7 linked regions of the Homo sapiens genome follow. The protein of the gene in region 3 purifies or fractionates together with the protein of the main gene of each other region. This does not show direct contact. Each region holds a gene or a part of one and is shown on either strand. Other genes may lie near its edges. The genes, in order: ARFGEF3, STK39, KLK15, MAN2B2, DHFR, ANKLE2 and DNAAF5.

Region 1 (3,594 bases), on a different chromosome or scaffold from region 3:
TGTTTTTAGTTGCCTGTATTTATAGCCAAAAGTATATTACCTTAAAGTTGAGATCTTTCTCTTCTTTTCCTAAATTTTGGTAAAGTGTGCTTCATGAAACAAACATCTGGAAAACTCCAAGTATAAGAGACCCTGGACTGATGATGGCCCAGCCAAGTATATGGAGGGACAGAGTTCTCTCTGTCATTAATGAGGACATCGGTTTTCACAATTGAACCTCATGCACTGTCCACAGCATCTCACCTAGCTCCTGTATCTCCTGATCTGCTTTTAAAAATAGTTAGTTAGGCTGCCTTTTTACACCACCTTCTCTCTCTCCCCTTGTGGTAATTTTCCAGCCTTCCCCATAGATATAAAACTAGAACACCTTTATGATTTGGGGTCTATGTAATGACTGACCGATAAGAACCCAGGCAGATGCTAACATACTTAACAGCTCGCATTAAAATACTTTAAATCAGGCGTGATGGCTCATTCCTGTAATCTCAAGCACTTTGGGAGGCTAAGGTGGGTGGATCTCTTGAGGTCAGGAGTTCGAGACCAACCTGGCCAACGTGGTGAAACCCCGTCTCTACTAAAAATACAAAATTAGCCGGGCATGGTGGCAGCTGCCTGTAATCCCAGCTACTCGGGAAGCTGAGGCAGGAGAATTGCTTGAACCTGGGAGGTGGGGATTGCAGTCAGCCAAGATTGTTCTGCAGCATGGGTGACAAAGTGAGACTTCGTCTCAAGTAAATAAAACTAAAATTTTTAAATCAAACATGACAAAAATGTTAATATAATTCAGAAGTACCTTGAAATTGAAACATATTTGTGCAATGATCATTAGGCTTTTTGTCCTTGTTGTTTTAAAATGAGGCTTATACAGAGTGAGTTGAGAGTCAAGTAGCCTTCGCTGTGAGACGGTAATGCAGTTATATAATAGATACCCTTGACTTTGCCAGATTCATCACAATACTGCTTATACAGGAAAGTTTTCTCAGAAAGGAAAATCCATTAGTATCAGTCCCATCAAGCCAAACAGAATGAAGACCTTTGATAGTAATAGCAAGAGGTTACAAATAGCAGGGAGGAGGCGAGTAGTGAATGTCACTGTGATTGCAAACCCTTACCTGTATTATCACACGTAGTCCTCACAACAACCTTGTGAGACAAGTGTTGTGTTCCTCATTTTTTCAGAGGGGAACACAGACCCAGAGAGGTTAAGAAATTTGCCCAAGATAACAAGTAAAAGGCAAAGTTGGTTGCAAAAGAGGTGTTTCTGAATTCAAGGGCCATACTCTCTCTCTGACAACATGCTCTAAGTCCATAGAGTAAGCACTCTAGTATGAAAAAAAGTTTCAAGGAACGAGGCCATGAAAATGAGACTATTTGACATCTCAGATCTGTCTGGGATGTTATGGAGGTTTTTAAAAATAAAGTTGAAAAAAGAAAATGAATCATGTTTATACATAAAAAAATCACATGTAACACATTTCAAGTGTTTGAAAATAAAACCAAAATCTAAACTTTAGTCTTCAAGCAGACATTCAGTGTTACTTTAGAAAACTCACTGAATTAGGTGGAAATGATGGAATAATACTATTCATGGCCAGCTATTAACACAGAAGAACATGGCAGTGTGTGTCTGGAACGGCATGCACAATTTGTAAACCTTTTTCAAATATCATTTAATCAACTCAGAATAAAGTGCCCTGTAGCCAACAGTGCCTCTTTACTTGCTTCTCTGGGAAATACATGGTACTAAATTAGTAGCACAAAGTTTGGGAATATGCAAAATAATGGATAACCATTTTTCAAAATGTACATTCTCTGAAGAGGAAGCAGCTGGTTGGACAGGATTTCTTGAAGAGCCAGGTGCTAAGGGCATCAGGTCGACATCCATAGTAACCATGTGCCATAACATCTACACATTTCCACTTGTTTTACAGACAAGGTAACAGGCAGAAGGAAAATCCAGAGTCTTGCAGTAAGCAGATGACAAAACTTCAATATGCTTGGGCACCACTTAGGTGACCCCAGGGAGATTTAGTGTGGCCTTAGGAAAGCAAAAGAGCACTTTTTATTGGAAATATGAGCTTGTCACTGGGAAAGATTTGTAAAATTGATCAAGAACTTGATTTATAATTATGCCTCAAAAAAAAAAGTTCTCATTTAGTAGTGGAGCAATCTAGAAAACATACCTTTTTTGTTTGTTTGGAAGATCCTCTTTCCCTGGCTGTATTGTAGTGTTTGCTATTTGATGTGGAAATAACTAATAACTTAAGATTTTGGAACAGAACACCCTTTAGATTTCCAAAACACAATTCTTATTTCAGGGAAGACAGACCAAAAATATCTCCTGAGATCATTGGTTTCTTTATAAATTGTGGTACCACTCCATCATTGAAGAGAAACCACTACCACACCACTAGCACCATACAGAACCTTTTCTCTGTATCTTTGTACAATACTACAAAGGGGTACCAGGGAGGAGAGAGTGGCTGACCACTTTAGTGACAAAACAGCACTCCACTGCTGGTGAATCCCATCTAATTATGGTCCTTCCACCCTTTTCAACCACCAACAACTGTTCGTACTGTTAATTCCTATCCTGAAGGTTTAACCAGTGGTTGTCTAGTATCTTCTGTCTTTAGAACAGTGGTTCTCAAACTTTAGTACACATCAGCATCACCTGGAGGGCCTTTTTTTAAAATAAGACACAGATTGCTGGGCTCATGGTCAGAGTTCCCAGTTAAGTAAATCAGGAAATTTGTATTTCTAACAAGTTTATAGGTGAGGCCAATACTGCTGTTTTGGGAACTATGCTTTGAGAACCACTGCCTTGAAAAAATTTCCAACTTCTACCTTTAAGATCAGCCTGACTTATCAAACGCTAGAGAAAAACTGAATCTACCCTTGGGCAGATGACTTGGGATTGGATTCTATACAGCAGTCTTGCTCAATCTTCCCAGTTTCCAGTTTTATTATACCAACAATTGGTTTTTACAAGCTAGAAGACAATGAATGTATAAGTTCTATGGAACAGTGAGATAAATCTAAGCTTCTTGTCTTTGTATTTAGAAACATTGATTCTATGGATGATCATTTGTATCATGTTGACCCTTTGACTTGTACTGAAGGTGATTTTAAATTTAAGTATGTAGTGTTTGAATTTCTTCCATCCATGTCGTTTTAATGAGATGTTTCCATGTCAGCTCCTTTACAGCCTTGGCTCCTGGCTTACAGATTTTTGAATAGTTGTTTGCTTGCCAGTTGTTTTACATCTTTCATTGGCCACCAAAATATTAGCCATTTGAGATGAGATGAGACTACTTGTTGTACCTTCATCTTTCATTTAATTTTCTGGCGTAAATTAACATTTTAATTTCATATATATCTGTAAAGAGTCTACCCAAAGGCTTCACGGAAATTTGCAAAATGAACTAATTCCCTTTTAAGCAGCAGGTGTGCCTGTTTTTGACTTTTCAGTAAATATGTTGTTTGTGCACATATCTACATGGTGGAGACCATATTCATTATTTCATCTTCCAAATAATGGGAAAAATATAAAAGTGAATCAGTGTGCTTTGGGAATTCAGTGAAATCATGTTA
Region 2 (4,482 bases), on a different chromosome or scaffold from region 3:
TGCCCTTGAGGGCTCTAAAGATGATGAATATAGAAGAAACAAGATTAGGACTGAGGCCAGGGTGGAGAGACAATGAGTTTAACTGTATGAAGTTCCTGTGAAACATTCAAACGAAGACATTAAAAAGGTAGTCCAAACACTGGTATACAGTCAGGAAGACCCTCAGCATTTGATGTGGTAATTGAAGCTTCAGACAGACAGAGATGTGGATCTGGGGCAGGCAAGGGAGTACAGGAAGTCCAGAAGGAAGGCATGGCATGGAAGCTCAAGCAAATGCCTTTCCAAAAGGAGAATGAAAGATGGCACCTAACCCTGCAGAGAGCAGAGAAAAGGACTGCAGTGTCCACTGGCTCTGGCCACAGAAGAGTCACAGTGATTTCAGAGAGTAACTTGGGTTTCTTAGGGAAAGGGCAGAAGCCAGACTGCAGTGGGCTGAGAGGGAATGGGAGGTTCCTTCCAACAATTTAGCAGTGAAAGGAAGAAACGAGATAACCGAGTAGCCAGAGGAGAAAGAAGTAGGGAGAGTGTTTTGTTTTGTTCTCTTTTGTCATTTAAACATAAGAGACAGGCTTGAGAATATTTATAAACTGAGGGAAAAGCAAAGAGGGAAAGAAGGAGACAGGGAAGCAATGGTGATGACTTTATCTGAAAATGAAGGCCTCTGTCCTCGCACTGGCTGGGACACACAGGGAGCGTTTCTTTTAGTCAGCAGCATTTCCTGCCAGCATGGCAGCCTCCGGGCAAACTCAGAGGTGGAGGAAAAGTGCAGTCCTAGCAGGTTGTTCTCGGAGCCCTCTCATAATGGGCTGCTCCTCTTCAGCAACCTTCCCGCAGGATGCTCTCATCACTTGTCAGAGGGCCATTTGGCACCTAAACCCCTGAGCTGTCCAAATTGCCAGGAGCTCCACAGGTCTCTTCAGTTTCCTCCCACAGCAGTGGAGGTGCAAGGGGAAGCCAGATCCCCAGGGGCCTCTCCCCTTGTAAGCCCCTTCCAGCAGCCCAGCACAAGAGTGGGAATAGGGAACAACCTCTCTTTCCCACTTCCTCCCTGCTAGAAACATAGCACAGAAATCTTCAAGCCACTCCAGAATCCTGCCAAAGATAGGACTGTGTTCTCTCCTGATAACTTGCATCTGATTAGCAAATGAAGTCTATAGAAGTTATGGCTAAGACTAATTGAAAGCATGCTGTGTGCCAGGCACGATTCTCAGTGCTTTACATTCTCTCATTCCTCACAACCCTATTTTTATCATCCCTATGTTACCAATGAGGAAACTGAGTGCAGACACATCTAAGTCATTTGCTCAAGGTCGCAGCGTCAGTGACCGCCATTGCAGGACATGAAACAGGCCAGGCTGTCAGACTCCAGAGCCGGCACTGCTGCAACTTATTTTCAAACACCATCACAAAATGTACTATACAATAAACCATAAAAGTCAGGGAAGAATTCATAATATCACTAGTTAAAAATCAAATGCATAAATAAAGGATTGCAGTCACTTTACCACAGTTTCAAGAGAGATCTTGAGATCTCTCCCCCCAGCCCCATGACAGCACATTTAAAAGAGTATTTATCTTGTAAATATAATTAATGCTACTGAATTGCACACTTTAAGAACGGTTAAAATGGTACAATTTTTGTTGTGTATATTTTACCACAATAAAAATAATACAAAAGAGGCCGGGCACAGTGACTCACGCTGTAATCCCAGCAACTTGGGAGGCTGAGGCAGGCGGGTTACTTCAGACCAGGAGTTTGTGACCAGCCTGGCCAACATGGTGAAACCCTGTTTCTATCAAAAAATACAAAAATTAGCCAGGCCTGTAATACTAGCTACTCGGGAGGCTGAGGCAGGAGAACTGCTTGGACCTAGGAGGCAGAGGCTGCAGTGAACTGAGATGGCGCCACTGCAATCTAGCCCAGGCAACAGAGCAAGACTCTTACAAAAAAAAAAAAAAATATATATATATATATATATATATATATATATATATAAAGAGGCCAGGCACAGTGGCTCACGCCTGTAATCCCAACACATTGGGAAGCCAAGGCCGGAGCATCGCTGAGCGGAGGAGTTCAAGAGCAGCTTGGGCAACATAGTGAGACCCCCATTTCTTAAAAATAAAAAAAGAAAAAAAAAATTAGGCAGGCATGATGGTTTGCACCTATAGACCCAGCTACTCAGGAGGCTGATGTGGGAAGATCACTTGAGCCCAAGAGTTCGAGGCTGCAGTGAGGTATGATTGCACCACTGCACTCTAGCCTGGGTGACAGAGTGAGACCCTTTATCAAAAAAAAAAAAATACAAAATACAAAAGAACATTTCTATATACATTTTTCTATTTATTAAAAAAGAAAGTGAAATGAAATGAAAATCAAAGCCCTGTCTTGAGACAAAGCATTTCAGACATCATTTAGTATTTTAAAAACAACAACAAACAAACTAATCAAGATCAAAGAACCCACTGCAGCAGCAAGGCAGCCTGGTATAAAGGTCTGGGAGATCAGAACACACTCAGTGCTCCGGCTCCCTTACCCTAGCGCCAGCGAAGGTACCACTGTCCTCAAACTGCCTCTAGGATATCTATAAAAACCAATTCTAACCCCCAAACCATAGAAATCCACAGAAACTCTGAGAGCACAGAGCAAAGTGGGAATGCCCAGGGCTATTTACAATCTCATTTTACAAGAGGCTGTTGCTCCTTAAAGACCTGGCCATATGTGCTATTACCTGGACCTGAGTAAAACGCACCTGAATGGATAAACAATGCCTCACAGGAGAGAAATAAAGCATTCAAAGGAACCCTCTGTCAAACCATGTCCAGGATTCTAGAACTCAAATTCTTCGTGTTGACTAAGATGGCAATTTGTTACTTTTAGGTCATTCTAAATGACCACCCGGGACAAAAGTGAAGCAATGCTGAGAAATCTAGTATAAAACTACATAAAGAAAGGTGCATCCTGCAAAAACCCTAAGAAAATCAAACAAACTCCTGCTGAGGCAGGAGTCTAGGGTTTCTCAGAAGAAATTCAGCAAAGATAACAACATTGCTGGAATCACCTAATTCAAATACAGAAATTAGTACTTCAATGACTACAATTCTTTGAATGAGAAGTTCATTGAGGCTGCTCCATTCCATTACGGATGGCCAAGTAAACACTTATATGATTCACTTTCATTCCCTGTTTAGCAAATCTAGGTAATATTATTAACACCCCCAACAAATAAACTAAGTTTTCAACTGGCATAGCTTTAAGTGCCCCTTATACTTCTAAAGGTAGGGGTACCTACTTTTGGGGGCTCAACTCACCCCCAAATTCCTTCTTTAGAGAGGTAAGGAACAAAGATTAACAAGGCTGAAGAGTATAAACAGGTCGGAAAGCCTCCAAAAAGACAGAAATATTTGAAATCTACTAAGACAAGGATATCAATGTCTGGAAGAAGGAATTTAATAATTTCCAACATTTTTAACCCCTCTGTAAATATAAAGCTCCCTCCCATCGATTTTACATCATTTCCAGGTCATGAATAAACTTATGAACCAGAATACTCCTAAGAGCATTACAATTTCTCCACTGACGTTTTAAAACACAAGAACAACAATACAATAAAGAGAAAACTTTATTTTTAGGTTTGCAAAATCCTGTGTTTATTTTTCTAAAACTGAAGTCAAACAACTGAACCTGCTTTGTTTGGATTTTAGTAAACTTATTCTCTCTTAATCCTGGGGGACCAAACTCTGCCCAGAAGGAAATGAAGAAAAAGTCCTCCGTGCCCGTGCCATGCTGGAAAGTTAAAACACGGTGCCTCCTTTGGTTTTCTGTTCAGGCACATCTGAGCCTCCTGCTGCTGGTCACGGTTCACACTGCTGGAGTCATATCATATGACACCTGCCGTATGGCGGGTAGAAGCAAAGGCTGTCAACTGGCATTCATGTTGAAACTGGTTCAGTGTTTGAACTGCTAACTTCTGCGTGTAATGTTTAAGCAAAAGTGCTTAACCACAAGTTCAGTCTTAATCTCTCAACTAGCATTAAACCCTAAATGGAAACAGGTTTGTAATTCCTTATAAACATTAAGCCCTTGCGAAAAACCTATTCCAGCAATTTGATTTTTCAATAACAGGGCCTCCACACAGGCCAACTCTTTCTCTTTTAGTTGGGAAAATATGAGATAAACTTTAAATGTAGAAAAGCCCTTCCCACAATGCAAATGCGCAAAAGTCAGGGTAGAATAAGCAGGTGTTTTTGTTCTCAAATTCCTCAGGTAAATTTCTTTTTTTCCACTAAACTGACCAACCATAATTAACACTGCTGGGACTGCAAACAGAAAGAAGTCCTGCCATTAATCCCACTCAACTTAAACTAAGATTTTATTAGTTCACAAAAAAATACTGTTTTCAAAAGGCAACGTTTGTATTTTAACCCTAATAATTGACCAAGTAGGTATATAAATTGATTATAACTTCTCCCAATCCTATG
Region 3 (3,875 bases):
AAGCTGTGCGGGCGAGTGGTTTTCCCGCCAGTGGAGTGCGGGCCAGTGGTTACCCGCAAGTAGAGGACAGAAAGATCAAAGAGTGGGCAACCCGAGGTCTCCCGACCCTTTAGAAATCTCGACATCCCATTACCTTTTCCCAAGACCCTGAAGCCAATGGTTCCAGCCCCTGCTCCTCAAGGACCAACGAGTCTGAAGTCAGGCACACTCCTAGAACTCGATCCCCTCCAACTACTCCCAGCCCCCTCCTGGTCTGTCCCCGAATCCAGGATTCTCACATCCCTAGAACTGAGGCTCAAAAGCTGGAACTAGTCTTCTCCTTCCTCCTTCAGAGATCGAAGGCTTTGAAACACACACTCCTTCCTAACCCAGGGGCTTGACATCCGGCCTCCTCGTCTTTCAGAACCCAGGAGTTCTGGCGTCTGCCTCCGTCTTCCCCCAAATCTAGGAGCTCTTCCCCCCGAACCAGGCTCCCTCAGGACCCTGAGCCCCTGCCTTCATACCGGCTTTGGCAGTGGGCCGCAGACAGCACCCAGTGTGGGGAGATGAGGGAAGCGCCACAGTTAAAGCGTCCACGCTCGTAGAGAGCCACTTGCCATGGCTGGGAGTGGGGTGCACACTCGTCACCTTCCAGCAACTTGTCACCATCCTGGGCTGCTAAGAGAAGGGGTAGAGGATGCCTGAGGACAGGGACGTTTACATTGCCTCCTACACCTTCCTTGCACCCTGCCCTAACTACTATATGCCTATGCCTTTCCCCTAACTTCTCAAGACACCCTGCCCTGTTTTTGTTTGTTGTTGTTGTTGTTTTTGAGACGGAGTCTCACTCTTTTGCCCAGGCTGGAGTGCAGTGGCATGATCTCAGCTCACTGCAACTTCCGCCTCCTGGGTTCAAGTGATCCTCCTGCCTCAGCCTCCCGAGTAGCTGAGGTGCCCGCCACCACACCTGGCTAATTTTTGTATTTTTAGTAGAGACGAGGTCTCACCATGTTAGCCAGGGTAGTCTCAAACTTCTGACTTCAAATGCTCTGCCCGCCTCAGCCTCCCAAAGTGCTGGGATTACAGGTGTGAGCCACCATGCTCCGCCTGCCCTGTTGTTTATTTACAACCGCTGCCTGTTTTCTCCAGAACTCTAGCCCCCACCCCATTTGCTATAAGACTCTGGGAGAGAGAGGAAGGGGAACAGACCAGAGGGCAAGAAGTCCTCTGTGGTTGGGGGTGGAGACAGGGGCACTGGATACAGGTTCAGACAGGTGGTCACTTGAAACCAGTCATTCACGGTCACCAAATTGTCACAGACGTCAAACGCATGTGGCCACTCAGTATGTGTGACCCAGCCTTGGCCCCAGAGTCTGGACATGTCAGCCAAATTCAGTGTGCAGTATGAGTCCCAGATGTGGCTATACAAGGTCATGGACATGCATACATGCACATCCAGCTTCCACACTTAGGTACAGCTATGGACAGGACTGGAAGCTGAAATTCACTTGCATGCACATGGGTTGCAGCTTCAAGAATCACAGCACAGGCTGGGCACGGTGGCTCATGCCTGTAATCCCAGCACTTTGGGAGGCCGAGGCGGGTGGATCACCTGAGGTCAGGAGTTCGAGACCAGCCTGGCCAATATGGGGAAACCCTGTCTCTAACAAAAATACAAAAAATTAGCTGGGCATGGTGGCGGGTGCCTGTAATCCCAGCTACTCTGGAGGCTGAGGCAGGAAAATCGCTTGAACCCGGGAGGCGGAGATTGCAGTGAGCGGAGGTTGCTCCATTGCACTCCAGCCTGGGTGACAAGAGTGAAACTCCATCTCAAAAAAAAAAAAAAAAAAAAAAAAAGAATCACAGCACAGATGTTCATATGTGTATATGAATATGGATGGTTAAGACATGAATACATACACACACACACATGCACACACAAACACACACACAGAATTGGATATTGTTCAGACCTAAATTCAACATCTCTAGTGTGAGTCTTGGCATCCAGTGTCACAGACACTTGCATACAGGGTCTGGACAAAGATGGGTCCTTAAGCCTGGGTTCGAATGTACTAGCTGTGAAACTTTGAGTAAGTTATTCGACCTGTCTGTGCCTCTGTTTCCTCATCTGTAAAATGAAGATTGTTGTAAGGATGAGGTAGGAATGTGTATGTGTGTGTGTGCATGTGTGTATGTATGGTGAGTGATACCTAGCCCTGGTAGCTACTTAATAATATTAGTTGTTTTTTGCAAATGACACCTGGATTTAGTCACAGGGACATACGTGTGAAAGTTCAGGTCCATCCTGGAGATGGCCAACATAAGTCAGACATCTGCACAGAATTACCTATAATAAATAGTCAAGGTTGGCCAGGTGTGGTGGCTCACGCCTGTAATCCCAGCACTTTGGGAGGCCAAGGCCGAGGTGGGTGGATCACCTGAGGTCAGGAGTTTGAGACCAGCCTGGCCAACATCGTGAAATCCCGTCTCTACTAAAAAATAAATAAATAAATAAATAAAAATACAAAAATCAGCTGGGCGTGGTGGTGCGTGCCTGTAATTCTAGCTACTCGGGAGGCAGAGACAGAATTGCTTGAACCTGGGAGGCGGAGGTTGCAGTGAGCTGAGGTTGCACCACTGAACTCCAGCTTGGGCGGCAGAGCGAGACTCCGTCTCAAAAAAAACCAAACAAACAAAAAAAAGTCAAGGTTAAAACCGTGATTCACCCACAAGACATTTTGTAGAGTTAGAGCTGCAGACACCAACCCAGAAGGCCAACACTCAGATGTGGACTTGCTGTCTGGGGCAGCACCCAGACACGGGGCTGGGCATTCAAGGTCAAAGACATGCAGCTGAAGCCAGAGGCAGCCAGGGCAGGACATATTTATCCATCTCTAGATCAGCCCCCAAGCCAGATCTGTGGAGTCACTGATTGGGTTTCACATATGGGGATCTGGCTCATGCATGTGGAGAGGATGTGAACATACAGGGCCTTGTATACCCACTGCACACGTGCATGTACACACACACACACACACACACACACAGAATGGCATTATGCTTAAGGACATGATTAGAGACATTCAAGGTCACAGGACCAGGACCCCTCTCCACTGGGCAATGTGGATGCATCCCCTGAAGGTTGAAGCCATGCACACTCCCACCCACACAGGGGCAGGATTTGCACAGCCAGACCAAATGCCCACACTCTCCCCATCACAGTCAGGAACTGGGCCAAAGGCCCCCGTGAGACCAGGGGAATGCGGATGTGGTGGACAAGGGGCTTAACAAAGGAAGGGTGAGGTCGTCCTCCGAAGGGCGGAGGGTACGGGCTGAACAGCTGGGCACCGAGGCTGCACCTGGCCAGTCCAAGCCAGAGGAAGGTGGAGGCCCCAGCTGGGCGCAGCAGGCAGGCGCGAGGCAGGTAGGTGAGTGCACAGAGAGAGCCGGAGGGGAGGCTGGAGGCGTGGGGGTCTCAGGGGCCCCCAGGAGTGAGGGTCATTTGTGGCAGAACGTTAATGAAAGTCCACCCCCCAATTTCTCCAGAAGAGAGGCATCAGGTTACAATTAATTTCTTGGTGTGTGGCAGCTGAGTTCAATCTGGAGTTTGCCTGACACCCAAGGTGACCTTGATGTTGTGGCCGTCCCTCTGAGCCACAGCCCCTTCCCTTGTCAAATGAGGTCGGTGGTGCCCACCACACATAGACGTTGTATGTAAGCTCTAAGCACCGTGCCTGGCTTGCACACCTGAAGGGGCACTACCTGGGCCAGGCTTATGCTTCTGCCTCACACACAACCACATTTAATCCCCTCAAAGACCCTGTAAGAGACAGGGAGTGGCAGGTGTGGGACTCAAGCTGGAGTCTGTCTGTGCTGTTGGCCTCTCAGCACTT
Region 4 (4,482 bases), on a different chromosome or scaffold from region 3:
CTGGAGCTACCATCTTCTTACAATACCCCAGGCCATGCTGATTGGTCCAGGCATGGGCCACCTGACCCCAGTAGGACCAATCAGAATCTTTCCCTAGGACTTTTGCACTTGGAACTGGAAAGTCCAAGTCTTAGGTCCTTTTGAGTGGGGAAGACAGAGCTGCTCTTTGAGAGCAGCCCCAGAGCTGTTCAGAGTCACATCCCAGGTGGGAGGTGAAGGAAAGTCTGCAGACAGAGAGAAGTGCAGGTGAGAGACGAACAAGGACAGCCTCACGAGGGCTCCAGGCCCTGAGGCCCAATTACACCCTGCCCTTCCCTTGGTTATGTGGGCCTCACCATACACTCTCCCTGGGGGCTCAGCTAGTTCAAGTTGGGTTTCCGTTACTTGCAACCAACAGAGACCAGAGTGAGGCCAGGTGGGATGGAGCTGACAACAGCCATGGGGCTTTCTCAGACATGGCCTCATCTCCCTTTGCAGGAAAAGCCCCAGCTACACAGAAGGAACCACTGACTGGTCTGGGAGCAGAACCTGACCCTGCTAGGCCAATCAGATTTCCTCTTCTGGGAATCTGAAGCAAGGGAACCAGAGGTGGCTCAATGGCCGTCCTGGGAGACATGGCTGTGAGCCTCTGCTCCTGATATGCCTAGAGCTGCCCTGCCCCATGCCTGTCTGGACCTTGTATCCAGCTCCTCCTTAGATTCCATGAGCTTCTCCAGGCTCTGCCCAAATAGCTGCCCCTTCAGGCTCTGTTACTTCCAAAGAACCTTAATTGACACCCCCTGGACCTGATCCCTGACCTCCTCCCAGCTGTGGTCTCACACTCCTCTACACCCACGAAACACCAGGCCCTCTATGGCATGGCTCCTTCTCCACCCTGAATCCTGGCTCTATACGAGCATGCCTCCCCTGTCCAACAGCCCAGGAAAACTCTCCTGGGTCCGGGCTGCTCTTCTGCATCTCCAGTGTATGGCACAGGCACACTGCAAGTGCTCAGTATATGCTTGTTGCATGGGTGAGTGACAGCCTGCCTGCTGGCTACTGCCCTGGGTTCTGGCTCTAAAACCAAAGCAGGGAGAACCTTAAAAGCACATGCTAATCAAAACCTCCATAGGTGAGTAGAAAAAGAAAAGAGTTTAAGGATTAGTGAGAATGGCAGCAAATTGTATCTAGGTCTTGCAGCTCCAAAAGACCATCTTTAAATGTAATCATTGTTTAATGTTTCTCATGTTCTGCTACTTTATAGAGACACAGAACTACATGGTTGTTGATCTGATCTACAGAAGCTCAGTGGAGGTACAGAATAAGTCCTTTAGGTTAGACTATAGATTAGAAAGACCCCCACCTGGTGACAGCACACCTAGATTCAGACCCAACTTGTCTTTTATTTTTACTTTTGAGACAGAGTCTCGCTTTGCCACCCAGGCTGGGGTGCAACGGTGCAATCTCAGCTCCCTGCAACCTCTGCCTCCCGGGTTCAAGCGATTCTCCTGCCTCAGTCTCCCGTGTAGCTGGCATTACAGGATTACAGGCATGCGCCACCATGCCCAGCTAACAAACCAGTCTTTTAAATGCTAAGCCTCCAGACCTAAAGTGACATGGTGACATAATGTCATATTAAGAAAGGAAAAGATACATCAGAGAAGAAAATGGAGAAGATACAGGGAAGAGGCATATGGTGAAATGGGTGAGTCCCAGCTCTGTACCTCCTAGTTGTATGACCTTAAGTGAGCCACTGTTTGCCCTCAGTTTGCCCATCTGTTAAATGAGGGGCTTGGGCTAGAGGTCCCTGAGGTCGCTTCCTGCCCAAAAGCTGCCCAGAGTCATGAGGGCACAGGCCCCTCCCAAGGCCCGCCCTGGCCTGGCTGGTGCTGAGGCAGTGATGATGTTACTCTGAAAGGGTGCCCCTTTACCAGCGAGGTCTCCGAACAGCACCACGGGCCTGTGCTGCAGCGCCAGTGCGCTCCTCTGGCGCAGGGCAGTGGTGAGGGACCAGGATCCCAGCAGAAGCCAGAGCACTGGGTGGACGACTGAGGTGTCGTTCAGCGTGAGGTTGTAGCCCAGGTCCCAGTCGAAGTTGTTCCACAGCCGCCGGTGGAGCATGACCTGCGGGAAGGCATTGTCCGAGAGGCCCGGCTTGCACCTGGGCATGCCTGTAGGGGGCCGCGAGGGGCTGCTGTAGGACAGACCGTGCCTCCTACCTCCACCTGCCCATTCCCTTGGCTGGAGATGCCATGTGCCCGCTCCGACAGCAACACAAGCCTGCTTTTGCCATCCTCCATGAAGGCCGACTGAACCATGGGGTAGTAATTCTGCAGACAGAAACATCGCCAGGTGGGCGATTGGGGCAAAGGGCAAGGTAGGTCAGGCATCACCCTCTGGCCACCCCAGCTGGTGCTCCCCATAGGCACAGCAGCAGCATGGGGCTGGGACCCTGACTTTGGAGACCAACAGACTGGGGTTCAGACACCAGCTCTGTGGCTTCCTAGCATACAGCTCAGCTGACATGGGTGCAGGCCCTGGCCAAGCCCTGGCCACGCATCATCTCATGGATCCTCAGAATGACCCTTTGATGAAGGAGCCATTTTACAGGAGAGGAAACCGAGGCACAAGCCAAGGCACATACTATTCTTGTCTGTGGTAGCACCAGAATTCAGACACCAGTCTGACTCACAGCCTGCACGCTCAAGCCCTGAACGGGCAGATACACAGGCTTTAAAAGAATTCTCTCTGGAGGCCGGGCGCGGTGGCTCACACCTGTAATCCCAGCACTTTGGGAGGCTGAGGCGGGTGGATCATCTGAGGTCAGGCGTTCAAGACCAGCCTGGCCATCATTGTGAAACCCCATCTCTACTAAAAATATAAAAATTAGCTGGGCATGGTGGCAGGCGGCTGTAATCCCAGCTACTCGGGAGGCTGAGGCAGGAGAATCGCTTGAACCTGGGAGGCAGAGGTTGCAGTGAGCCAAGATCGCTCCATTGCGCCCCAGCCTGGGTGACAGAGTGAGACTCCATCTTAAAAAAAAGGAAAAAAACATTCTCACTGGAGGCCTCTACTGGCCTCTACTGCTGCAATTTGATGCTTAATGGGTCCAGGAAAGGCGCCATTGGGAGCGTGCCTTGTGGGCATTGCAGGACATACCCGGGCGATGCTGTTGTTCACATAGGAAACGTAGGGCCTCCGCTGCATCTGGTAGCCGTTGTTGTCTGAGTAGATGACCTGCTGGCTGTTTAGGTTGGTGCTGGTCCTCAGGACAGCCTCACGGTTCAGCTCCAGGGGGCCGGCTTGGTACTCCTGCTCTATCCGGTGGCAGAGCAGCTCCCCGTCATGGCCCTGCGGCACATGGGTGAGCCGGGAGCGGATTGCATACGTGTAATTCTGTGCTGTCATGTTCCTGGAGGAGAAGGGAGCATCAGTAAGTGAAGCTCCAGGAACCTTCTAGATGCTTCCTTTTTGCTTCCCTTCCTTCATGTGGGCAGGGTGGGCAGGGCAGGGTACGCCGAAAGGCAGGGAGCCTTCTTGGGCCATGTGGACAATAGCACCACCCAGGACCCCGAGCGGCTGGGAGCAGCCTGGTTCCCCGACACCGCAGGGCTGCCATGCCGGGCCTGCCTTACGTCTGCTCTGATCATGGAAGAACAGGTGCTCTGTGGGCCCCAGGGTCTGTGGGTCTCTCTCCCAGCTCTGAACTTAGCTCCCAACCAACGTGACACAGCACACGCAAACGCAGCCAGCATGCAGACACCAGAGCAATTCATTTCTTCATCAGACCACGTGTCAACCACGGCCCGGAAGCTGGGGTTCAGAGCAAAGACAGACCCTCATTCACTGAGCTGCCTGCACGCGTGCGCTGACTGTGTGCCGGGCTGTGGGGGTCACCCCAGGGGAAGCACCTGTAGAAGTACTGCCGGATCTCAGTCACAAGCTGTCCCGCCACAATCTCCATTTCCACAGCTTCCCACGCAGGCACCGCGGCCTTGCCCGGTGTGAACAGGTAGTTATCGGAAATGGGGCCCTGTTTCACATCCCCGTTGACGTGGTACTCCAGGAATTCCTGGGTCACGCGCACCGTTCGGTTACTCTGTCTGCAGAGGCAGGAGAGAGAAGATGTCATTCTCATCCTGCACAAGGTCTTACAGACACCGGCTGGCAAGCCTCTCTCTCCAGATGCCATCTGAGTGGCCTGCGTAGCACTCACGAGGCCATGTGACTCAGCTCATCTAGAAGCCCTGAGACCCCACCCACAGCCAGTGTGGCCTTAGACTCCATGCTGTCCCAGAATGGGTCACAAACGAGGAGACGGACAGAGCCTGCAGACAGGAACCGTGAGCCGTCAGCAGAGGGCACCCCCAAGAGATGGAACTGGCTCACCCAGGCTGTGGTCTGCAAGCGAAACCAGTGCAGGAACGGGCTTTTGTCATGCTGACTCTGAGCTGTCCAGCAGGACACCCATGTGTACAGACCCCATGTCATGGGCCAGAGCCT
Region 5 (4,482 bases), on a different chromosome or scaffold from region 3:
GGCCCGTTTTACAGATTTTTGGACTCACGTACCCAGCCCCCATAATTGTGTAAGCCAATTCCTCGCAATAAAACTCTTTAATATACCTGTATCTATCTACTACTGGTTCTGCTTCTTTGGTTGAATCTTCACCAATACACATGGGAAAAGAATACTATGACTACTGTTCCCAAGAAAGTAGTGCCCTAGGATACTGCATTCTTTTTGGTGATTATATTATTAGACTAAGAATGATTAACATGCCAGATCCCAGACCTTCCCCTTAGATCCTGATATGGTTTGGCTGTGTCTCCGCCAAAATCTCACCTTGAATTGTAATAATCCCCACATGTCAAGGGTGATACCAGGTGGAGATAAATGAATTATGGGGGGTGGTACCCCCCATGATGTTCTCGTGATAGTTAAGTTCTCATGAGATCTGATGGTTTTATAAGGGGCCTTTCCCCCTTTGCTCGGCACTTCTCCTTCCTGCCACCATGTGAAGAAGGATGCGTTTGCTTCCCCTTCCACCATGATTTTAAATTTCCTGTGGCCTCCCCAGCCATGAGGAACTGTGAGTCAATTAAACCTCTTTCCTGTACAAATTGCCCAGTCTTGGGCAGTTCTTTATAAGAACATGAGAATGGATTAACACAGGTCCAATTCTGGCCACCCCTCAACCTCCCAAGCCATTGGAGTTGACTTCCTGGGCAGTCTTAATATGATTACCCCTCCCACTCTCCAGTCACCAGGGCATATCCAGGCTTCATGAACTACTGACTCCAACCCTGGGTTGGAGGACAGGAAAATTCTTAGCAGAGGCTAACTGGAGATACCCGCTTCTCTCCAGGATCTCTAGAACCATTTCAATACTTTGAAATGTTTTACCTTCAGACACTGGGTAATGAATGTTAAGTACAAAATATTATTGGGTATTGTGGTTAACTAGGAATAACAGAGTAGAAGATTATGACCCATTTCAGCCCATCCTAAAATTCACATTTTATTGCATTTAGGGTTGGGTCCAGAAAGGGGATCATCACTTAATTTTAGCAAGTCCCAAAAAATAGTTGTTTTGACTTTATGTGAAACTACAGGTTATTGATTACACTGTATAATTTATATTTGGGCCTACTGAATGATGGTTCAAGATAACTTGCAAATCTGATACCACAGTGAGCTATTTAATGTTTAATGTAACTTTTCAAGGTGATGAAATCAATTACTCAGGTAGTAGAATAAGTTATTGTCATGTAGTATAAATAACTGCTTATTAATTTTCTATAATCACCTTTGTGATATTAAGCAGCTTCATCAATAGCTCCTTTTATACAATTTCATTTTATCATATACTGATCTCCACTATGAGACATGATTTTCTTGTGGTGAATTTATGTTAAGGTACTTACTTGAGTTCTCTGCTGAGAACTAAATTAATTCTACCCTTTAAAGGTCGATTCTTCTCAGGAATGGAGAACCAGGTCTTCTTACCCATAATCACCAGATTCTGTTTACCTATAAAATCACAAAGAAAGCCTAAGTATATTTTGGGAATATACATATATTTTCATGTATTTATATACAACATGTCCTTGAATAACATCGTTTTCTTCTAACGTTGATGAGAAAAATAATCAATTCCTGGCCAGGGCCACCGTCTGTGTGGAGTCTGCATGCTTTTCCCATGTCTGCATGGGGTTTCTCCAGGTATTCCAGTTTCCTTCCACATCCCAAAGACATGCACATTATTCTTCTTAAATGTATGTATAGCTCATATTTACTTCAGTGTTTTCTATTAGAAGTGTTTTTGGCCTTCATTTAGAAGTTTGGTGATGTTTTTGTGACCAGCAATATGCCCTAGGAACTTAACTCTTGTGTACATCCAGTAGCCTATGGTAAAATTGGTTTTGCTCTACATTGTTTCACTTAAAGTCACAGTTTCCAAGAACTCACAGATGACATTGAGGACTTATCTATGTGCATAGATATGATGGACATCCTGACATTTAGTGGATCTCCTTTAAAAAACTGAACTTAAAAGTCTCTTCACGGGCAGGTCAATTTCACTGGTTGAAAGTAAGAGACAGCTGAACCCTCGTGGAGCCATTCATACAAGTCCCTATTTAAGGAACAAGTGATTATGCTACCTTTGCACGGTTAGGGTACCGCGGCCGTTAAACATATGTCACCGGGCAGGGGTGCCTCTAATACTGATAATGCTAGAGGTGATGTTTTTGGTAAACAGGTGGGGTAAGGTTTGCCGAGTTCCTTTTACTTTTTTTAACCTTTCCTTGTGGGCATGCCTGTGTTGGGTTAACAGTGGGGGTAATAATGGCTTGTTGGTTGGTTGTAGATATTAGGCTGTTAATTGTCAGTTTAATATTTTGGTCTGATGTAGGCTTATGTGGAGGAGAATGCTTTCATGTTACTTATACCAACGTTAGTTCTTCTATAAGGTAATAGATTGGTCCAATTGGGTGCAAGGAGTTCAGTCATATGTTTGGGATTTTTCGGATGATAGGTGTTGAGCTTGAACGCTTTCTTAATTGGTGGCTGCTTTTAGGCCTACTATGGGTATTAAATTTTTTACTCTCTTTACAAGGTTTTTTCCTAGTGTCCAAAGAGCTGTTCCTCTTTGGACTAACAGTTAAATTTACAGGGGGATTTGGAGGGTTCTGTGGGTAAATTTAAAGTTGAACTAAGATTCTATCTTGGACAACCAGCTATCACCAGACTCGGTAGGTTTGTCGCCTCTACCTATGAATCTTCCCACTATTTTGCTACATAGACGGGTATGCTCTTTTAGCTGTTCTTAGGTAGCTCGTCTGGTTTCGGGGGTCTTAGCTTTGGTTCTCTTTGCAAAGTTATTTCTAGTTAATTCATTATGCAGAAGGTACAGGGGTTAGTCCTTGCTATATTATGCTTGGTTATAATTTTTCATCTTTCCCTTGCGGTACTATATCTATTGCGCCGGTTTACAATTTCTATCGCCTATACTTTATTTGAGTAAATGGTTTGGTTAAGGTTGTTTGGTAGTAAGGTGGAATGGGTTTGGGGCTAGGTTTAGCTCAGAGTGGTCAAGTTGAGTTGAAATCTCCTAAGTGTAAGTTGGGTGCTTTATGTTAAGCTACACTCTGGTTCGTCCAAGTGCACTTTCCAGTACACTTACCATGTTACGACTTATCTCCTCTATATAAATGCGCAGGGGTTTTAGTTAAATGTCCTTTGAAGTATACTTGAGGAGGGTGACGGGCGGTGTGTACGCGCTTCAGGGCCCTGTTCAACTACGCACTCTACTCTTAGTTTACTGCTAAATCCACCTTCGACCCTTAAATTTCATAAGGGTTATCGTAGTTTTCTGAAGTAGAAAATGTAGCCCATTTCTTGCCAGCTCATGGGCTACACCTTGACCTAACATCTTTACGTGGGTACTTGCGCTTACTTTGCAGCCTTCGTCAGGGTTTGCTGAAGATGGCGGTATATAGGCTGAGCAAGAGGTGGTGAGGTTGATCGGGGTTTATCGATTACAGAACAGGCTCCTCTAGAGGGATATGAAGCACCGCCAGGTCCTTTGAGTTTTAAGCTGTGGCTCGTAGTGTTCTGGCGAGCAGTTTTGTTAATTTAACTGTTGAAGTTTAGGGCTAAGCATAGTGGGGTATCTAATCCCAGTTTGGGTCTTAGCTATTGTGTGTTCAGATGCGTTAAAGCCACTTTCGTAGTTTATTTTGTATCAACTGGAGTTTTTTACAACTCAGGTGAATTTTAGCTTTATTGAGGGGAATTGATCTAAAACACTCTTTACGCCGGTTTCTATTGACTTGGGTTAATCGTGTGACCGCGGTGGCTGGCACGAACTTGACGAACCCTAGGGTTAGTATAGCTTAGTTAAACTTTCGTTTATTGCTAAAGGTTTATCACTGCTGTCTCCCGTGGGGGTGTGGCTAGGCTAAGCGTTTTGAGCTGCGTTGCTGCGTGCTTGATACTTGTTCCTTTTGATCGTGGTGATTTAGAGGGTGACTCACCGGGGCAGGGATGCTTGCATGTGTAATCTTACTAAGAGCTAATAGGCTACGACCAAACCTATTTGTTTATGGGGTGGTATGAGCCTGTCGAAACATTTTCAGTGTATTGCTTTGAGGAAGTAAGCTACATAAACCGTATGGGGTGTCTTTGGGGTTTGGTTGGTTCGGGGTATGGGGCTAGCAGCGGTGTATATGTTGAGTAAGGTGGGCAGGGAGTTGCATTGATGGGGTTAGTAGAATGTGAGTTGAGGGAGGATGATGTGTTAGTTGAGGGGTGACTGTTAAAAATGCATACCGCCAAAAGATGAAATTTGAAATCTGGTTAGGCTGATGTTAGGGCTCTTTGTTTTTGGGGTTTGGCAGAGATCTCCTTTAAAAAACTGAACTTAAAAGTCTTACCAAAATTCATACTTATCACTCATTACCTAAATCTAACTATTTTTCCCTTTGGCATTATCCAATTTATATCCAATATTTAGTT
Region 6 (3,897 bases), on a different chromosome or scaffold from region 3:
GAGGAGCCATCAAAACTCGATCAGGATGTTTTGGCCGCTCTTGAATGTGCAGACGTCGACCCCCATCAGTTCCCGGCCGTGCACAGATGGAAGAGTGCTGTCCTGTGCTACTCACCCTCGGACAGACAGAGGTATGTGGGGCCCGGACAGCCTGTCACCCGCAGGGCAGCTTTTGGAAACTTCTGCAGGGTCCAGTTCCACTTCATGCGAACCTATCAGTGGCTTTTCCCAACGCTGGCAGGCCCGTCAGCCAGGCTGTGGATTTGGGTGTTGTGGCTCTCTGCACACAGGACAGAGCTCTGGTTGGGTGGAAAAGCTGAACGGGTCAGCTCCTGACAAGCTGAGGGCTAGAAGGGTGGAAGCAGCAGGGTTTCTACTCAGATCACACAGGATTCTCCGGGAAACCCCCATGAGCTTGACTCTCCCAGTGCCCGCGGTGCCAGGGTTCAGCAGTGCCTCTCCTCCACCCAGACGCATGTGCCCACGGTGCCAGGGTTCAGCAGTGTGTCTCCTCCGCCCGGGCGCGTGTGCCCGCGGTGCCAGGGTTCAGCAGTGCGTCTCTTCCACCCGGGCGTGTGTGCCCGCGGTGCCAGGGTTCACCAGTGCCTCTCCTCCGCCCGGGCGCATGTGCCTGAGTCTGGGGCCATTATTCTCCGACTTTTGCTGTTCATCTCCGGGCCTGTGCCCGTCTGCTAACAGTTCTTTCTTGCTTTCCGCAGTTGGCCCAGTCCCGCGGTGAAAGGAAGGTTCAAGTCTCAGCTGCCAGATCTCAGTGGCCCTCACAGCTACAGTCCGGGGAGAAACAGCGTGGCTGGAAGCAACCCCGCAAAGCCAGGCCTGGGCAGTCCTGGGCGCTACAGCCCCGTGCACGGGAGCCAGCTCCGCAGGATGGCGCGCCTGGCTGAGCTTGCCGCCCTGTAGGCTTGGCGCTGGGCTCTCGGTTTGTTCTTCATTTTTAAAGAAGGAAGGGTCATATGTTTATTGCTAAACTGTCAAAAAGGAATATATTCTGATTAAATTATTACTCCTCACTTTGAGGGTGTGAGAATTTTAGAAGATTTAAATGTTCTATATAACACTTAGATTTCTGATATTTTGGAAGAAGTTAGAAGTTAATGAAAGCAAACTCAGTTACCAATTTTCTGGAAAATATCCATGTGGTAATGGTAGACTTTTTAGGTGGCAATTTCTAGGTCTGAAATATAGCAGAGGAAAGGGCGCTGAGGCAGTTGCAGGCAGGCAGCCCTGTACTTACCCTGTACTCACCTCATCCGACAGACGCTGTGGATGAGGAGGGGCTTGGCGGAGGCGTGAGCACCGATGTCCCTTTGATAACCTGCACTCACCAAGATGAACTATTTGCCGCCCTGTCTTTTCCTGGGTTGGGGGGTGGCATCTGATGGTGGCAGAGTGCCTGTTGGTTCGCCCGTGGGTCTCATGGTTCAGACAGAGGGAGGTGGACGGCAGGGATCAGGGAGCCAGGAGCGCGCCTCAGACTTGCAGCAACCATTGTGATTTGGGTTGTTCGGAATATTTAAATTACTGATCAGAAGATGAAAGTAGCTTTTCTCTTGGGAAGTCTTGCAGCCCGTGGGAGTGATACCAGGAGCAACACAGAGCTCAGCAGCGGCGCCAAGGTGTTCCCTGTTTCCTCAGCACGTGAGCCTTCACCGCCTGCTTCATTCAGGAGCCAGTGCAGCAGTAATACAGTCTATACATTGTTCTGTTTTCAAATTTATCCTGAGGCTTTGTTGAGCATAAATGATTATACGATAAAGGTATCCGTTATTTTGGAACTCATTTCAGTTGGGATCTCCTGTATGCAGAGTGTTGCATTTAGAGGTTTGAGTCCCATCTTGGTTTCTTGCCGTGCTGACTGTAGCCTTCACCTTGACTTGAATGAAGGTCTGTGGTTGGAATGTGTGAGGAGCCGCTGAGGTGTTCAGGAGGTGCTGCCTGGAGGTCGGTTTCTTCCTGGGTGTTACGGGCAACTGCTCACACAGTTGTTTCTCTGTGAACATTTCCAGTGTTTAATCCAAAATGAAAACCCACCAATGCTTTTGCTAACTTCAGTGCCTTTTATAAATCATTTTTAAATTTCCTGAACTTGCTTTTTGAGGATATACAGGGATATTAAGTAGACGCAGGATTGTTTTTGTTTGTAAAAATTCTGAATTGAAACTTTGTTTTAAAAAAAGGCTTCTTTCTTTCATATGACAAGAGATAGGTCAGGAATATTGGAATCAAGATTTAAATGTTAAAATTCGATTTTGTTACACAGGGTGTGTTCATTTGTTTTGTAGCAGACAAGATCTAGATCCCAGACAGAAACAACACATGCTATTCTAAAAAGCCGCATTTTAAAAGGCACCTTGGTTCTCAAAAGAAATCAGAATATGGATATTCGTAGTGATGATCTGTTTTCTCTAAAATCTTACCATATTGTCTGTATATGGTTGTAAATTCAAATGGAAAGTAAAACGTTTTGGCCCTGATTTTGTATGTGGACCACTGCTCCTGATTTCCCAGGTCTTAGGCCACCTTTGACTGTTTCTCCGTTTGTTTGTGGGCAGCGATTCCAGTCCCAACGGAGGCATTCTCGTGTGTCCCGGGGGGTTATGTCCTTCACAAAACACTTAATGAAATGAATTACTTCAAAACCGCGTGGTAATAATTGCAAGCTTTCGGAAGGATCCCTCACTTGTGCCCAGGCGCACGGCACTGTTTTGGTTGGACGGCCATCAACCTGGGTGCCCTCAGATTCGCTCGCTGTTTTTAAGCCCCTTTCTTGACTCAGTTGTGAAAGATTTTCTGGCATCCGTTAAAAGAGCACAGATTTTACCGTTGCTCTTGGCAGTGGGAAACCTTGGTGACATTAACAGTTGCTGTGGTGGCTTTGGTTGGAAAGTGCCCTTCTCCAGCGTGGTGGCAGCTGTGAGGGAGGCGCCCGGTGAGTCTGCTGCTCGTTTCTGGGTAAAAGCAGCCATGGTGCTGCGTACCAGCCGTGGGAGTGCCAGCGGCGCCATGGCAGGGACCACAGCCAGGTCCTCCAGAGCCGTGTGGATGTTTCCAGAAGCCTGCAGAGTTTTCCCAGGGAAGGGCTGATGGAAACCCTCATTGGGGCCCGGCTGTGCGTGCGGGGTGCAGGCGTGTTTGTCGTGGTTGGAAACCCTGTGACTGCTCCAGCTGCAGATTCCCGCCCGTGCTCCCTCCTTAGAAAAGGCTTTGGGATAAACGTCGGCATGGCGACCCCTGGCAGCTGGCCGCCATCTGGTGGCATTGCCTTTCCCACCAGTCTCATTGAGGCTTCTGGTGTGCAGTTTTCACTTTGGCCAGACAGAGGCTATCGTTACTAACATGTGAGAAGTCTTCAGTCTGTCCCAAACCAGGGGACGGTTTCCATCGTTGACGTCGCTGGGCCCCTGTAACTCACCCAGTCCAGACACCCTCAGCCTTCCCCTCATGCGGCTCCCTCCACGCAGGCGTTCACAACATGCACACTGAAGATCCCTGGGGGCTGCCCTGGTATGGGTCAGCTCCCCACTCCCCAGTCTCCTGCCTGCCCCTCCCTGCCTTCTCCCCCGCCATACCTGCCCTGAGTCCAGCATTCAGAAATTAGACCCCCACCAGCTACCAGCCAAACCGGGAGCCATCCTCACTTTGCTAATCTACGTCCGTCCCACATGCAGAAGACTGGAAAAGGCCATTTAAGGAAGAACCACTTTGAACAGCAGGTATTTTAGAAGGGAAGTCTACCAGGCACAGTGGCTCATGTGCTTTGGGATGCCGAGGTGGGCGGATCACTTGAGGCCAGGAGCTCGAGACCAGTCTAGCCAGCATAGTGAAACCCATCTCTACCACAAATGCAAAAATGAGCCAGGTGCAGTGACGCACACC
Region 7 (4,482 bases), on a different chromosome or scaffold from region 3:
AGAAATCAAAGGCATCCTCATAACCCCTCGTGGGTGAAGGAAAGTGGAGAACTGACACACATTCGATGATGTGTTAAAAACGGGTTTTGGGAAAAGCTGAAGCATGGCTGAAATGCCATGAGCACGCGGCCCGGGCCCCTCCCCCGCTCCCTTCCTTACCCCAGCTCCGTTTCCTTCCCTCTATGTATTCCAGGAACTGCTTACAGGTTTCTTAAAACAGTTTACAAAAATGACTGTCAACAGCCCCACCTCTCGTTCTGAGGACGGAGAGGGAGCCTGACACAGGACAGGCCGGGCTGAGAGCACAGTGGCAAGTCCCCGTGCCCCAGGCCAGCTTTGGGGCCATAGAAGCCGCCGGAAACGATCGAGCCGGAGCAAGTGCCTCCAGGGGTGAGCTGAGGCCCGCCCTGCATGGCACGGCCGCCTGGTGGGGGCAGCCCTGTGTCCCAGAAATATCTGGGGTGCTGAGTCCAACACACACACTGACAGGGACCACTCACCTTCAAATGAAAGCAAAGCCATCACCTCTTCTTCCATGGAATACAACTATGGATTATTCCAAACAATTGAGCCCAACTACCCAGGCTGTTCCAGCTTCTGAGCTCAAGGATTTGCTGCTCAATTTAAAATTAAACAAATGTCTCTGGCAAATCCTCAGCTGGGCTGTGAGAAGCACAGATCGGAACGCCAGGCAGGGCTGATGGGGAACAGGCTGTCAGTGCCCCCTGAGGACGTGCGATCTGTGCAGGTACCCTGGGGACTGGATGGGATGGTGGACGTGCGACCACGCTCCTCAGGGGTGGGATGACGTGGACCCCACATCTACCCCCAGCAGCATGGGCCAGAGGGTCCCGGCCATGGACGCCTCCTGAGTCATCAAACACGTGAACTGTGGTGTGTGGCCAAGAAAGGGGCAGCAACGAATGTAAACGTGAGCGGCCGCCTGCAGCTGGGGCTGGGGCTGGGGCTGGAGCTCTGCACAGCCCAGGACGAGGCCCCGGAACAAGGGCTATCAGCGAGGGCACTCCGGTTACTGCAGGTGTTTCCGATGGCCCGGCCTGGCGGCACGGGGCGGACCCACAGACACGTCGCTGGGTGCTTCCGACAGCCCAGCCTGGCGGCACAGGGCAACCCACAGACATGTCATTACGATGGCTGACGGCCGGGCAGGGGAGGCTCCTCCTCTCCACTCCCGCATCTCCCAAGTGCTCTTACGTTTTCAGATGCCTGGCAGATGTGGGCCTGTGCCAGCTCTGTGGCGATGGCTGCCAGGTGCGGCTGGAGGGCTTCTCGGGGGCAACCCCGCATGGCGGAGGCCAGCACCAGGAGGCCGGAGGCAGAGGGCGTCTTCTTCAGCGTCGATAAGATCAGCTTCAGAAACACCTCAGGGCTGACAAACGTCCCGACGAGCTCTGCGGATCTGGTACACTGCGAGAAAGAAACATGAGAAAACTCAGAGCCAAACCCGAGGGTCTCAGCCGGGCTCCTGCTCTCGGCGCCGTGGCCTCCCAGACACAGCCGTGCACCAGACAGAGCCCCGTGTTAGGCAGAGTGAGTCCTTGGCACATGCTCAGAGCCCTCAGGAAAGGTACAAGGGTCCGGGTGTGGTCTCAGAACGTCCCTGAGGCCAGCGAGCCGGACACGCCTCCCAGGCAGTGAAGTCTGGCCCAAAGGATGCTGTGTCCCAGCTGTGGGGTTCACCACACACCCCTCATCGGACACCAGTGACCCAACCTTCCCATCACTAAGCTGATCAATACACACCAGCCCCTCTGTACCGTGGAAGCCCACAGTGGATCACACACTCACCAGCCCCTCTGCACCGTGGGATTCCACAGTGGACACCACACACCAGCCCCTCTGCACCGTGGGATTCCACAGCGGATCACACACACACCAGCCCCTCTGCACTGTGGGATTCCACAGCGGATCACACACACACCAGCCCCTCTGCACCATGGGATTCCACAGTGGACACCACACACCAGCCCCTCTGCACCATGGGATTCCACAGCGGATCACACACACACCAGCCCCTCTGCACCGTGGGATTCCACAGCGGATCACACACACACCAGCCCCTCTGCACCATGGGATTCCACAGTGGATCACACACACACCAGCCCCTCTGCACCGTGGGATTCCACAGCGGATCACACATACACCAGCCCCTCTGCACCGTGGGATTTCACACCGGATCACACACACCAGCCCCTCTGCACTGTGGGATTCCACAGTGGATCACACACACACCAGCCCCTCTGCACCGTGGGATTCCACAGCGGATCCCACACACGTCTCTCGTCCTCTCAGCCTCACCCCCGTGTCTCTTGCTCTCCTGTAGGTTCCACAGAGAACTACAGACAATTTTAAATTCACGGTAGTTTTTGAAAAGCAGAAACATGACATGTAAATAACATGGAACCTGGAACATTTACTTTAAATCAGTCACAATGATTTAGATTTTTTTGTTTTATCTGAGACAGCGTCTCATTCCGTCGCCCAGGCTGGAGAGTAGTGGCGCAATCATAGCTCACTGAGGCCTCAAACTCCCGGGCTCAAGCGATCCTCCCACCTCAGCCTCCCGGGAGCTGGAACCACAGGTGCACGCCACTACGCTGGGCTAGTAACAGTGACCTGGACCACTAGAAGTAAAAGCTGCTGGCCAGGCTACCTTGCAATGGAATTTAAGGTTCAAGATGAGGATATTTTCAACTGAAATCTCAAGTCAAAGCTTTAGTTGTTCTCCTGAGCACTAGGAAGCATCCTTGTGAGGTGGGTGTGAAGTCCTCATGGTGGTGACTGTCAGCGCAGGGCGTGGCCCGGCCTAGTGAGGAGGAGAGGCCTGAGCATGGGACTCCCTCGTGCGTACCCAGTGGTGACGAGGCGATAACCAGCAGCCGAGTGTGGACAGGGAGTGAGAAAGAGGACTGCACCAGGGACACCACTCGCAGGACACCCGAAGCTGTGCCATCATCCCCCGTCTGGGTGCTCCCACAGCCCCTGCGAGGCCTGGAAGGGCCCTCAGGACAGTCCAGATGTCAATGCTGAACGCTGGGCATCTCGGTCCTGTGTCAGCAGCCCGGGCCCTGTCTGTCTGGTGCACGGCACGTCTACACAACACGTCTACACAACATGCACCTGGCACTGCACCCCCGAGTGTGCTTGAAAATGAGCATGAAGGGTTCACCCTCAACACGCTGTTACCTACGGGCACAGAAAGGAGATCAGTTGTTCCCAGGGGCTGGGTGTGGGGAGGGCCTGCGGCCCGGGGGTGAGGGGAACGCTGTCTTGGCTACAGTACAGCCTCGGGCCCCGCACACCACAGAGGCGGGATCTTAAGCTCGAGTTACAGCTCCGCGACCACGACTGGAATACGGCCACTTACACTTTGGACCACGGCTGCCTCCTCGTCGGTGCAGGCCTGGAACAGGGTCCGGAGGACGACCTCCAGGTGCTGCGTGGCGTGGTCCTCGGCATGCAGCAGCAGCACTGGGAGCAGCTGTGCCGACTTCACTCGGGTCCCCACCACCCAGTCGGTGATGTCGTGGCACAGGGCAGGGAGGATCTTGGAGAGGTTCCTGAAGACGAGCTCCCGGCAGCCCAGCACAGGGCGGCGCTCTGGAACGAAAAAGGGAAAGAAGAATGAGAAATTCACAAGCAAAACCTCAACAACTCAAGTTACCGCACATCACATTTAAGGGACACCTGTGAGTTTCAACCTCACCATTTCAAAACAAGTCTTGGGGTGGACGCAAAGCTGACAAATGCCCCGTCGTTCAGAACATTCACAGAGGCGGTGCACGGCTGCAGTCCTAGCCCTGTGGAGGCCAAGGCAGGTGGATCACTAGAGCCCAGGAAGTCAAGACCAGCCTGGGCAACATGGCAAAGACCCCATCTCTATAAAAAACAGGAAGATTAGCCAGGTGCCGTGGTGCATGCCTGTGGTCCCAGCTACGCAGGAGTCTGAGGTGGGAGGATTGCGCCACAGCACTCCAGCCTGGGTGACAGAGCGAGACCCTGTCTCAAAAAACAAACATTTAGAGCCACACAGAGATGCAAACAACACACTTGCCACACGTGCTGACGTGTATGATCAGAGAGACACGCCTGCGAAGCCGTCCCCCTATGATCAGAGAGACACACGCCTGCGAAGCCATCGCCATATGATGAGAGACACGCCTGCGAAGCCGTCCCCCTATGATCAGAGAGACACACGCCTGCGAAGCCATCGCCATATGATGAGAGAGACACGCCTGCGAAGCCGTCCCCATATGATCAGAGAGACACACGCCTGCGAAGCCATCGCCATATGATGAGAGAGAGACGCCTGCGAAGCCGTCGCCATATGATCAGAGAGACACGCCTGCGAAGCCATCCCCATATGATGAGAGAGACACGCCTGCGAAGCCATCGCCATATGATGAGAGAGACACGCCTGCGAAGCCGTCGCCATATGATCAGAGAGACACGCCTGCGAAG

Evidence for each region.
Region 1: the proteins of KLK15 (region 3) and ARFGEF3 purify together in Homo sapiens (affinity purification with mass spectrometry; one large-scale study listed by BioGRID and IntAct). This does not show direct contact.
Region 2: the proteins of KLK15 (region 3) and STK39 purify together in Homo sapiens (affinity purification with mass spectrometry; one large-scale study listed by BioGRID and IntAct). This does not show direct contact.
Region 4: the proteins of KLK15 (region 3) and MAN2B2 purify together in Homo sapiens (affinity purification with mass spectrometry; one large-scale study listed by BioGRID and IntAct). This does not show direct contact.
Region 5: the proteins of KLK15 (region 3) and DHFR purify together in Homo sapiens (affinity purification with mass spectrometry; one large-scale study listed by BioGRID and IntAct). This does not show direct contact.
Region 6: the proteins of KLK15 (region 3) and ANKLE2 purify together in Homo sapiens (affinity purification with mass spectrometry; one large-scale study listed by BioGRID and IntAct). This does not show direct contact.
Region 7: the proteins of KLK15 (region 3) and DNAAF5 purify together in Homo sapiens (affinity purification with mass spectrometry; one large-scale study listed by BioGRID and IntAct). This does not show direct contact.

Annotation. Positions count from the first base shown.
Region 1 is NC_000006.12:138,339,493-138,343,086, forward strand, and holds part of ARFGEF3 (brefeldin A-inhibited guanine nucleotide-exchange protein 3), read left to right. Parts: 3' UTR 1-3,594. UniProt on the Homo sapiens protein: Participates in the regulation of systemic glucose homeostasis, where it negatively regulates insulin granule biogenesis in pancreatic islet beta cells. Also regulates glucagon granule production in pancreatic alpha cells.
Region 2 is NC_000002.12:168,240,602-168,245,083, forward strand, and holds part of STK39 (STE20/SPS1-related proline-alanine-rich protein kinase), read right to left. Parts: intron 1-4,482. UniProt on the Homo sapiens protein: Effector serine/threonine-protein kinase component of the WNK-SPAK/OSR1 kinase cascade, which is involved in various processes, such as ion transport, response to hypertonic stress and blood pressure.
Region 3 is NC_000019.10:50,827,159-50,831,033, forward strand, and holds part of KLK15 (kallikrein-15 isoform 4 preproprotein), read right to left. Parts: intron 3,407-3,875; exon of another isoform or gene 3,372-3,406; intron 658-3,371; coding exon 504-657; intron 4-503; coding exon 1-3. UniProt on the Homo sapiens protein: Protease whose physiological substrate is not yet known.
Region 4 is NC_000004.12:6,608,707-6,613,188, reverse strand, and holds part of MAN2B2 (epididymis-specific alpha-mannosidase isoform 1 precursor), read right to left. Parts: intron 4,083-4,482; coding exon 3,891-4,082; intron 3,392-3,890; coding exon 3,139-3,391; intron 2,310-3,138; coding exon 2,199-2,309; intron 2,104-2,198; coding exon 1,911-2,103; intron 1-1,910.
Region 5 is NC_000005.10:80,648,001-80,652,482, forward strand, and holds part of DHFR (dihydrofolate reductase), read right to left. Parts: intron 1,495-4,482; coding exon 1,389-1,494; intron 1-1,388.
Region 6 is NC_000012.12:132,724,266-132,728,162, reverse strand, and holds the end of ANKLE2 (ankyrin repeat and LEM domain-containing protein 2), read left to right. Parts: coding exon 1-131; intron 132-719; coding exon 720-921; 3' UTR 922-2,660; downstream 2,661-3,897. UniProt on the Homo sapiens protein: Involved in mitotic nuclear envelope reassembly by promoting dephosphorylation of BAF/BANF1 during mitotic exit.
Region 7 is NC_000007.14:753,728-758,209, reverse strand, and holds part of DNAAF5 (dynein axonemal assembly factor 5), read right to left. Parts: intron 3,622-4,482; coding exon 3,389-3,621; intron 1,429-3,388; coding exon 1,216-1,428; intron 1-1,215. UniProt on the Homo sapiens protein: Cytoplasmic protein involved in the delivery of the dynein machinery to the motile cilium.